2 linked regions of the Homo sapiens genome follow. The protein of the gene in region 1 purifies or fractionates together with the protein of each later gene. This does not show direct contact. Each region holds a gene or a part of one and is shown on either strand. Other genes may lie near its edges.

Region 1 (4,852 bases):
CTTGAGAGATCCAAGTGCCCAGTTTAACCTATTACTTGGGGCTTATTTGTTGGCAGGCTTCTGGAGTCTTGCGTCTCTTCTCCCCTGATTCTTCCCTTGGGGTGGGCTGTCTGCATGTGCAGTGGCCTGCCAGCCCTTGGGATGGGCTGCACACACACTGTGTTTACTGAAGTTGTGTACATGCTCATTGGAGACATTTTTCCCTTGCCAGACAAGTCTTCCTAGAGGAAGGTCACATACCCGTTGAAGTCCGCCATTTTGCCTCTTGGTATGCATGCTCAAGCCTGCTTGCCCAGCTCCTGAGAGTTTGTCAGGAGTCTGCTAACCACCAGCTTCAGGTGTGTTTTCTATCTATTAGGAGACTGACTTTCCCTGATGCTGGCTGCAAACAATTATTATTCTAGAGAGACTGTTTTTTTGTTTTTGTTTGTTTGTTTTTGAGACAGAGTCTAGCCCTGTTGCCCAGGCTGGAGTGCAATGGCATGATCTTGGCTCACTGCAACCTCTGCCTCCTGGGTTCAAGCAATTCTCCTGCCTCAGCTTCCCCAGTAGCTGGGATTACAGGCACCTGCCATCACGCCCGGCTAATTTTTGTATTTTTAGTAGAGACAGGGTTTCACCATGCTGGCCAGACTAGTCTCAAACTCCCGACCTCAAGTGATCCACCTATCTCAGCCTCCCGAAGTGCTGGAATTACAGGCGTGAGCCATGGCCCCCGGCTTAGAGAGACTGTTTAACAACTGCCTGATCATCACCTGATGGTCACCTGATATTCCTGGTTGGGGGGCCCCTCTCCTGTCCTGCTCATGTCTGCCTAAGTACCTACTCTAACACTTGGGGGCAGGCAGTTATATAAATTTATATATTTTTGTGATGATAGCTGTTGTTAAGGGAAAAAGGACAACTTTCATCTTGCGTGTGGTAGGTTCTGCGAGCCAAGCTCTCGCACTCATGCACGGGGTCCTGTGTGCCTCTGATCACTTTTGAATACCACGCCTGACTGTGCTGATCACTGCTTCCATGAACTCTGGAGTTGGCTAGGAGGTGGAAAGAGCCTTGATCTGGATTCAGGCATAGGAATAAGCAGGGAACCCCACTTAGGCCTTAAGACCAGGCCACTTTTGCTTCGACCTAGCTTGGCACTGCCCCAGGGTATTATTTTTATTCCCATTATTTTAGTCTGTTTAAATTGCTGTAACAAAGTACCAGAATGGGTGACTTATAAACAACAGACACTTACTTTTCACAGTTCTGGAAGGTAGAAGTCTAAGATCAGGGTGGTAGTGTTGGGTTCTGGCGAAGGCCCTCTTCTGGTTTGCGGATGCCTCCTTCTTGTATTTTCATATGGCAGAATGACAGCCTGAGGCTCTCTGGGGTCTTTTTTATAAAGGTACTAATCTGACTCATAAAGGCTCTATTCTTATGACCTAATTACTTCACAATTTTCTCCTGCTAATACCATCACCTTGGGGGTTAGGATTTCAACATAAGAATTTCACAGGGCACAAACATTCAAGCTATAACATCCATTGAAATATTGCTCCTTGTGTGAGTAGCTCTTTAAGGAAGCTGGAGAGGAAGAATTGGGAAATTTCCGGGTCTTTCAGCCAAATACAGTTAATGTCATAAAAACACCACCTTGACTTTTAACATGAACATTAATGTCTGCATCATCTTCCTTGCTCAGGGTCTTCATGAACACTAATAGGGGTACCAGGCCCTCTTCCTCGTTAGAAGAAATCAGGATAACAAAGGCATATTGGGCACCCCTACAAAAGGGTAAGTCCAAGGAAGGCTCCAAAACCCAGATAAGTTTGCACATCTAAATTGGGGAACTTTTGTAACCGAGGGTTGTTTGTAGCAGCTAAATTATTTAGGTTCTCTGTGCTCATTGAGATATGGGAGGGGATATGTGAAGAGGAATTTGGTGCTTTGCTGATACTAATGCCCTGCTTGTCTAATGGTTCTAGGGGATTTTGAATAAGTTCCTTGTGAGAACTGGGTAGCTGTGTAATCACGGCTGAAAGGGTCTCTGGAGGTGAGGACTGCACACTCTAGAGTTCATCCCAACACAGCTCCCTCTGTTCTCATACGCCACTGGAATGCTGACCACAAAATGGTGTCTTAGCTAGAGCAGTTTGAATACTGGTACAATAGGCATAACCTAGAACAGTGCCTACCACTGCATGGAGAATAAATACATATTTGATGAATGAATGAAAAAAGTATTCTGAATAAGAGAGAGGAGGAAACAACTCCCTTTCTCAAAACCTCCCAGTGTTCTCCACCCTCTCATCATTTTTGGAATAGAATCCCAACTCCTTGCAATGATCAACAAAGCCTGAGTGATCTTGGCCCTAACTCCTCTCATCTTCCCTAACTCCTTACTAACATTGACCTTCCCGTTCCTTCTCAGACAAGCCAAGCTCAATTCCATCTCAGGTCCTTTATACTTGCCTTTTCTTTTGCCAGAAATGCTGTAGGTTACCCAGATCTTCCCATAGGTTACTCATTCACTTCATTTTGATTTCTACTCTAGTGTCATCATCTCAAAAAGGCCTTCTCTAACTAATCACTCAAAAATAGCCACCCCCAAGCACTGTCTCATACCTACAATTTACCCTGCTTTATTTTTCTCTACAGAACTTATCACTACAGGAACTTGAGTTTAGTCATTCATTTATTTTCTGTCTCCCCACTAGATAAAAACTCCTTGAGAATTCGGACTTTATCTTGTTCACTGCTCTATCTCCAGTTCTTAAAACATGGCCAGTAGGTGATCAATAAATACTGGTTGAATAAATAAATGGATGAATAAATGGATCTTCTGAGAGGCCTTTTATCAGGATCTAATTACCTTTTGAGTAAGACCAAAGTTAGACCCAAACCGTGTATAGGTCATAAAGGGTAATAGAAGAGCAGTCCCAATACCACCATTAGGAACACCTCTTGAGAAAGTCATGGGGAGATGTACGTCAAAGAGTGAAAGTACACCAGTTGAGTCTTAGCTGGAGTTCTAAATAATTTTGGGAAGCTTGGGGCCAGAAAACTTTCTATGAACCCACCTGTATTAGTTTCCTGAGGCTGCTGTAACAGATGATCATAAACGTGGTGGCTTTGCCCTCAACGTTCTGGAGAGCAGAAGTCGAAACTCAAGGTGTCAGCAGGGCCACCATCACTCCAGAGCCTCCTCTAGCTTCTGGCGCCTGTTGATGTTCCTTGCCTTGTAGCTGCTGCACTCCAGTCTCTGCCTCCACTGTCACAAGGCCTTCTCCTCTGTGTCTCAATTGCCTCTTCTCTTGTCTCTTTGTCAAATATCCCTCTGCCTTTCTCTTAAAAAAGCACTTGTCATTGGATTTATGGACCACCTGGATAATTTGGGATGATCTCCTCATCTCAAGATCCTTAACTTTATTATCTCTGCAAAGACCCCTTTTCTAAGGAAGGTAACATTCATGGTTTCTGGGGATTAGGACATGGTTAAGATGTAGACATATCTTTTGGTGAGCCACCATTCAACCTATTACACCATCCATATTAAAACTTATTTGATTAGAGCTGGCATCATTATTTACCAATATATATACTTCTCTAGTTTTAGGCCATGTAACCCAAAAGAATGTAGCCTCCACTTTATAAGTCTGTAACAAAAAAAAGTTTAATGTCAGCCATGACTAATTTCGTGTATTTTAAAAATGTATGTAATGTATTTCATCATTTCATTATTTTTTTTCTAGAATCTGTATCTGTATCAAGATGATCTGAAGAACAGCTTCTACCTTTAGGAATGTCTAGTGTTCCAAAATGACTAGCATCTTCCATTTTGCCATTATCTTCATGTTAATACTTCAGATCAGAATACAATTATCTGAAGAAAGTGAATTTTTAGTTGATAGGTCAAAAAACGGTCTCATCCACGTTCCTAAAGACCTATCCCAGAAAACAACAATCTTAAATATATCGCAAAATTATATATCTGAGCTTTGGACTTCTGACATCTTATCACTGTCAAAACTGAGGATTTTGATAATTTCTCATAATAGAATCCAGTATCTTGATATCAGTGTTTTCAAATTCAACCAGGAATTGGAATACTTGGATTTGTCCCACAACAAGTTGGTGAAGATTTCTTGCCACCCTACTGTGAACCTCAAGCACTTGGACCTGTCATTTAATGCATTTGATGCCCTGCCTATATGCAAAGAGTTTGGCAATATGTCTCAACTAAAATTTCTGGGGTTGAGCACCACACACTTAGAAAAATCTAGTGTGCTGCCAATTGCTCATTTGAATATCAGCAAGGTCTTGCTGGTCTTAGGAGAGACTTATGGGGAAAAAGAAGACCCTGAGGGCCTTCAAGACTTTAACACTGAGAGTCTGCACATTGTGTTCCCCACAAACAAAGAATTCCATTTTATTTTGGATGTGTCAGTCAAGACTGTAGCAAATCTGGAACTATCTAATATCAAATGTGTGCTAGAAGATAACAAATGTTCTTACTTCCTAAGTATTCTGGCGAAACTTCAAACAAATCCAAAGTTATCAAATCTTACCTTAAACAACATTGAAACAACTTGGAATTCTTTCATTAGGATCCTCCAGCTGGTTTGGCATACAACTGTATGGTATTTCTCAATTTCAAACGTGAAGCTACAGGGTCAGCTGGACTTCAGAGATTTTGATTATTCTGGCACTTCCTTGAAGGCCTTGTCTATACACCAAGTTGTCAGCGATGTGTTCGGTTTTCCGCAAAGTTATATCTATGAAATCTTTTCGAATATGAACATCAAAAATTTCACAGTGTCTGGTACACGCATGGTCCACATGCTTTGCCCATCCAAAATTAGCCCGT
Region 2 (5,334 bases), on another chromosome or scaffold:
CCACAGGGGACCTGGGAATCTACTGAGGATACAGATTTCCCACAATCCGAGACTGTGTGTCTGCCTGATTGTTACATAATTTTAATTGGGTGCCACACACCGAGAGAGGTTGTTTACTGGTGGGCCATTCGGTTTCCAGTAAAAGCCCTTCCACTCACTGTGGCATGGTAAATGGAGCTCATCACATGGTCCCTTCAGCCTTTCCTTGAATCATTTCCACCCCTTCCCTAATTACCCTCTGTGATCCCTTTCCCGGCAAGGGTCCTTCTAGCCTTGCTACCTTGGTAAACCTGTGGCCTTAGGATCGAGGTGTGGACATTAACTTTTCTGCTCTGGCGGCTTCCTGGGCTGTCCTCTCCATGTTCCCAGCACTCAGGGGCACTGTCCTTTCCTGGCAGCCTAGTAAATCCCAGGCCTCTGTTTTGGGCCCTTTGGCTTCTTGGTGCCTGTTATGCTGAAGCGTAGAAGTGTCTTAGTCAGAGCCCCAAAGGACACTCACCGGCCCACGTTCTCATGGAGCTGGGTAGCTCTGACCAGACTTGCCCTCTGGGGCCCTGTCCTTTGACCACGCTGTCTCTATCCCTTCTGAGGCTAAGGCTTCCTCACACTGCAAGATCCAGCCGAGGCAGGCCTTGGCGCTGGGAAAGCACCGTGTCACAGCACCTGCACCTTGAATTGGCATCGTCAGTACACCTGACCCGGGCTGGGGTGGGGCCATGCCTCTGTACTCCTCTGCACTCAGGTACCTGGCACACTGGCATTCGGGAAGCATGTCTTGAATGCCTATTAAAATGATTAGGACCGGGCGTGGTGGCTCACGCTTGTAATCCCAACACTTTGAGAAGGCAAGGTGGGAAGATTGCTTGAGGCCAGGAGTTTGAGACCAGCCTGGGCAGCATAGTGAGACTTTGTCTCTACCAGACATAAAAAGTAAATAAAAATAAAATGATTAAACATGCACAACTCCACCTCGAGCTGGATCTCTCCTTAGGTCTAAAGACACTTGCTGAGAACCTGATGTGTGCCTGGCCTTCCAAGGCACACCTGTCACTGGCTTGGAACTCAGACCAATCAAAATGCCTGTGCTGCTGACAGCTGAGCTCTCTTCCTCTGGTTCTCCTCCTGTGTCCTGGGGGTGTTTTTCCAGACCTGCTGTGGGGAGAACCTTTGGGCTCAGATGATAAAGATCCTGAATTAGCAGAGTCCTGTGCCAGCTCCAGCCCCTGCCTTTGGGTGGACCGGACTAGGCTGGGGAAAGAAAGATGTCTGGCTATGAAAGGGTGGCTGGCCAAGGTTGAGGCTCAGCCTGCCCCTGCTCAGGCTCCGAGCAGCAGGCTCAGCAGCCACAGTTAGGCACGTTTGCACTTCCAACCATCACAGGCAGGCGGGCCAACCGGCCCATGGTGTGGTGACTAACACCTCATTAATGGTCATACCCCTTCTGTACCTGGCATGTGCCCTCCATTGTGTGCCTCCGGCAAAGAGCCCACTATCAAGTTCCCCAGTCAGCAGCTACTTGGTAGTCACTGTGGCATGTCGGTCACCATTAATATTTGAAAGATGCCTGTGCTCTGCTTCAGGCTGAGGCAGGCACCCCTTACCTTCCTGTTATGTGAAGATGCCTGCAGGAAAGGTCACACCTAGGGTGGGTGGACTAGTAATGCTCCCTGTTGTTATTTGGCCTTCAAAATTAAATTTGTCTTGGGCCCAAGTGGTTTGCGATTTCTCTGAGTCTCTGCCTGTTTTCTTCTCTGTTCCCTCCTTCCCAGGGTACACTGGACATAGTGTGAGACGCTTGGGTGCAGAAGTCACGGTGTGGTAGCAGGGCTGGGTGGATAAGCCAGCACCACGATGGTGGGTGTGCTGGGCAAGGGTGAGGACAGATGTGGACAGGAGGCGTGGAGCTCTGTGACGCCTTGGCCCTGCCCCAGAGGTCCCATGGAGGCCTGTGAAGGAGGGGCGATTGGACTGAGCAGAAAGCGAAAGGGGACAGGTGTCTCCTGCCACTCTGAACAGTGACATTCCCACAGTGTAGTGTGGGGACTGCAGTTGGCACTGTGTGGCCAGGGCTCCGGAAGCTGTTGTCCGAGGGGCAGGGAGGGGCTGGGTCCTGAAGGGCGGGGGACACCAGGAGAGGGTTTCGGGTGGAGAACGGTGACCGGGTGAAGCCCTGAGTGGGCAGGAGGCTGGGAGTGGGAGCTGAATTGCGCTGGAGTCACATGGAGTGTGAATGTTGTGACTGTACCGGAGACACCTGGGAAGCAGCTGGAGGGACAGGTCTGGACCTCAAAGAAGGATTCTAGGCTCAGGAGAGGGTGGGCTCCATTGGAGAGACAGGCACGGGCGGTGGAGGAGCAGCCGCGGAGAGGTGAGGGGATGCCTGGCAGGGAGGCAGGCGGGATGAGGCCCAAGGCAGCTGGGAGATCTGGCGGCCAGCGCGGCCAGCGGCGGGAGGGCCGGAAGCTGGGTGTCATCTGCTCTTGCCAGCCACTTGGCTCAGAAGGAAAACGGAGAAGAGGTGGAGCTGGAGTGGAGCCTCAGGCCCTGTGGTTTGCTGTGTTTGGGGCCTGCTGTCACAGCACTGGGAGCCTTGGAGAGAGATGGGGAGCTGGGATCCCCAGGAGGTGAGAGCCAGGACTGAGGGGGGGCCTTGGTCTGTGGTGGGAATGCAGAGAGCTGGGAAGCTCACGCCTGACAAGCCCCCTTTCTTGGGGTAGAGTGGGTGGGACGGGGCAGCTGTGAGCTGGAGAGGAGAGGGTGTCGGTGAGGAGTGCTGCGAAGGATGCCAGGTGGCACCGGGGGCTGGGCCACTGGAAACCGCTGAGCAGGCGGCAGGACTTCTCCCTCTCCCCTCGGCCGTTCTCGTGCCTCGGGCTCACTTCCTCGTGCAGTTTATCCATATGGCTGAGACAGGAGCGTGGGGTTGGCGGGCGGGAGTTGGGGCTTGGCAAGACGGTCCAGGCTGAGCTGGCAAGAGAGAAAAGCCAGAGTGGCTGGTGGATGCGGGGAGTCACAGCTCCGAGTGGGAGGAGGGCGCTGAGGGCTCTAGGAGAGGGTATGGGCAGGTGTATGAATGTGCAGCCTCTGGAGTGGGTAGAGTGGTTTTCTGGAATGCCCGGGGACTGGATAAAAAGGTAGAGATGTAAAGGCTTTTAAAGTTCTAGAGGCCACGGAGCTTTCCAGCCAGGACGGTGAACTTGGCCCTCAAGGGAGGGCAGCACAGAGAGGAAGGCCCTGAGCTGGAGAGAGAGGAGGCGGGTGGTGATGGGGAGAGCCCGGCTGCTGCTCGGCCCAGAGGAGGAAGGGTACGTTCGGGAGAGGATGAAGACTTGGGAGTGGTGTGTTTGCTGTAGACAATTTCCAGAGCAAGAAGGCAGGCTGGGAGCAGGGGCCGGGGGTAAAAGGCAGATAGCAAGGTAAGGAGGTGTGGGGGAAGACCAGCGGCTGTGCTCACCGTGGTTAGTGACACTGTCACCATCCAGCCCCGGTCAGACATGGTCCTATAGCTGAGGGTCTCACCAGGCAGTGGGGGCACAGGTCAGGGGAATGGGATCGCCAGAGGAGCATTCTCAAAATGTGCCTGTGCAGGCATCTCCCACCCCTGACATTCTGCATGGGAGGACCAGGGGGTGGCCACCCTACATGCAGCAGACCCCTGGTGGTCATTCTCCTCTCAGCCTCCCGTCCTCCCCTCCCCACCTCACCACCCCCAGTGGATGTTTCTGATGGCTGTGGCCTCTGCACATGCCCTCCAGGCTGCCACACCACAGATCTTTCTGGAATAAAAGCTTGATCTCACCTCTCCACCCCAGTACTCTGGTGGTGCCCTGTCACTATCGGGATGGAGTGGTGAGCAGGCCTTGTTACCCAGTTCCCCACCCCCACTGCTTAGAGCAAGTCTTGTATTTCCCTGCTGCTGAGTGCAGATCCTCCCCCTGCCACCCCAACGCCCAGTCTGCCCTGCCAACCCCAGCACGCTGTAACCGCCTTCTAGAAGGGCTTCCGGAACCCATCCAGCTCCCTGGGGCATGCGACCACCCCGGGGCCTCTCTGCTTCTACACATGTCTACAAAGCCACTTTCTGACCTCACTGTCAGGTGACCGATTTCTCTCTCAGCTCTTCCTAGCTCAGTGCCAGGCACCTAGGAGGCACTCAGGAGAAGGTTCCAGAAAGAACGGGTACACCTGAGTGCACAGACAAGTCCAGTGGCTCTCTTCCGTCGTGGTCCACTGTGCCAGCTCCATTGTTCCAGGGCTGAGGCCTAGGGCGGTGGGGCTATATGGCAGGAGGAGTGTCTGCACTTTGGGCCTCTGCCTGGGATTTATTTGTGTCTCTGAGGCATCCAGCAGACTCTTGGAGGACAGGATGAGGTGTTCCCTGGCCTTTCCCAGCACGTAGGTGGGAGGCCTGGGCCCCTCATGAAGAAATCAGACTTGGCGTGGACTTGCAAGGAAGGTCCCCCAGCCGGAGGAGGCGTCATCCCCTCCCTGGGGCTGAATGCTGGGGCCACCTCTCCCCTCATGCCTGCCATCCACACCCCGCTCCAGGTCTGCTTTTAGGCCCCAGTCCCTGCCCCATCTAGTGTGTTCTTCCAGCCTCCCTCCACCTACTCTCCCAGCACCTCTGTGATGTTGTGAAATATCTATTTGGTCTTTGTCCTTGTTTAGTGACATACAACTCCTGAAATCCTCAGAATCTCCGTGGTGCTCTTTCTGTGCGCTGGTGTTGACTGATAGCTTCCGGGTGGCGCTGGTCACTGGAAAGACCAAGGCAGGATTAGCGGGTTAGAACTTTCAGCCCCACCCCCAACCGCGGGGAGGGGAGAGGTCCAGAGGTGGAAGGTCAAGTTGATTGCCAGTGGGGTAATCAGTTATGCCTACTTAACAAGGGCTCCATGTCAACCCTAGAAGACAGGACTTGGAGAGCTTCTGGACAGCTGAATAGGAGGGAGTGCCTGGAGGGCAGCACCGTGTCCCTCTCCCGTACCTCACCCTAAAGGTCTCTTCATCTGTGTCCTTTGTAACAACCTTTATAATAAACTAGTGAATGTAAGTGTTTCCCTGAGTTCTGTGAGCTGCTCCAGCAAATTCATTGAACCCAAAGCAGGGGTTGTGGGAACCCCAACTTGAAGTTGGTTGCTGAGAAGTTCCAGAGGCCTGGACTTCTGACTGGTGTCTGGAGACGTGGGGGGCTTGTGGGATCTGAGCTATCTCCAGGTAGATGTCTCCCGGTGTCGGGATTGAATTGGAGGACACCCTGCGGGCGCCCGCTGCAGAATGGATTGCTTGCTGCCGGGAGAAACCCCCGCATCTTCTGGGTCGCAGATCCTGTGC

Evidence for each region. The genes of interacting proteins can lie anywhere in the genome.
Region 2: the proteins of TLR1 (region 1) and TBC1D24 purify together in Homo sapiens (affinity purification with mass spectrometry, with the first as the bait; one large-scale study listed by BioGRID). This does not show direct contact.

Annotation. Positions count from the first base shown.
Region 1 is NC_000004.12:38,797,784-38,802,635, reverse strand, and holds part of TLR1 (toll-like receptor 1 precursor), read left to right. Parts: intron 1-1,687; 5' UTR 1,688-1,779; intron 1,780-3,737; 5' UTR 3,738-3,804; coding exon 3,805-4,852. UniProt on the Homo sapiens protein: Participates in the innate immune response to microbial agents. Specifically recognizes diacylated and triacylated lipopeptides. Cooperates with TLR2 to mediate the innate immune response to bacterial lipoproteins or lipopeptides.
Region 2 is NC_000016.10:2,480,463-2,485,796, forward strand, and holds part of TBC1D24 (TBC1 domain family member 24), read left to right. Parts: intron 1-2,556; exon of another isoform or gene 2,557-2,624; intron 2,625-5,334. UniProt on the Homo sapiens protein: May act as a GTPase-activating protein for Rab family protein(s). Involved in neuronal projections development, probably through a negative modulation of ARF6 function. Involved in the regulation of synaptic vesicle trafficking.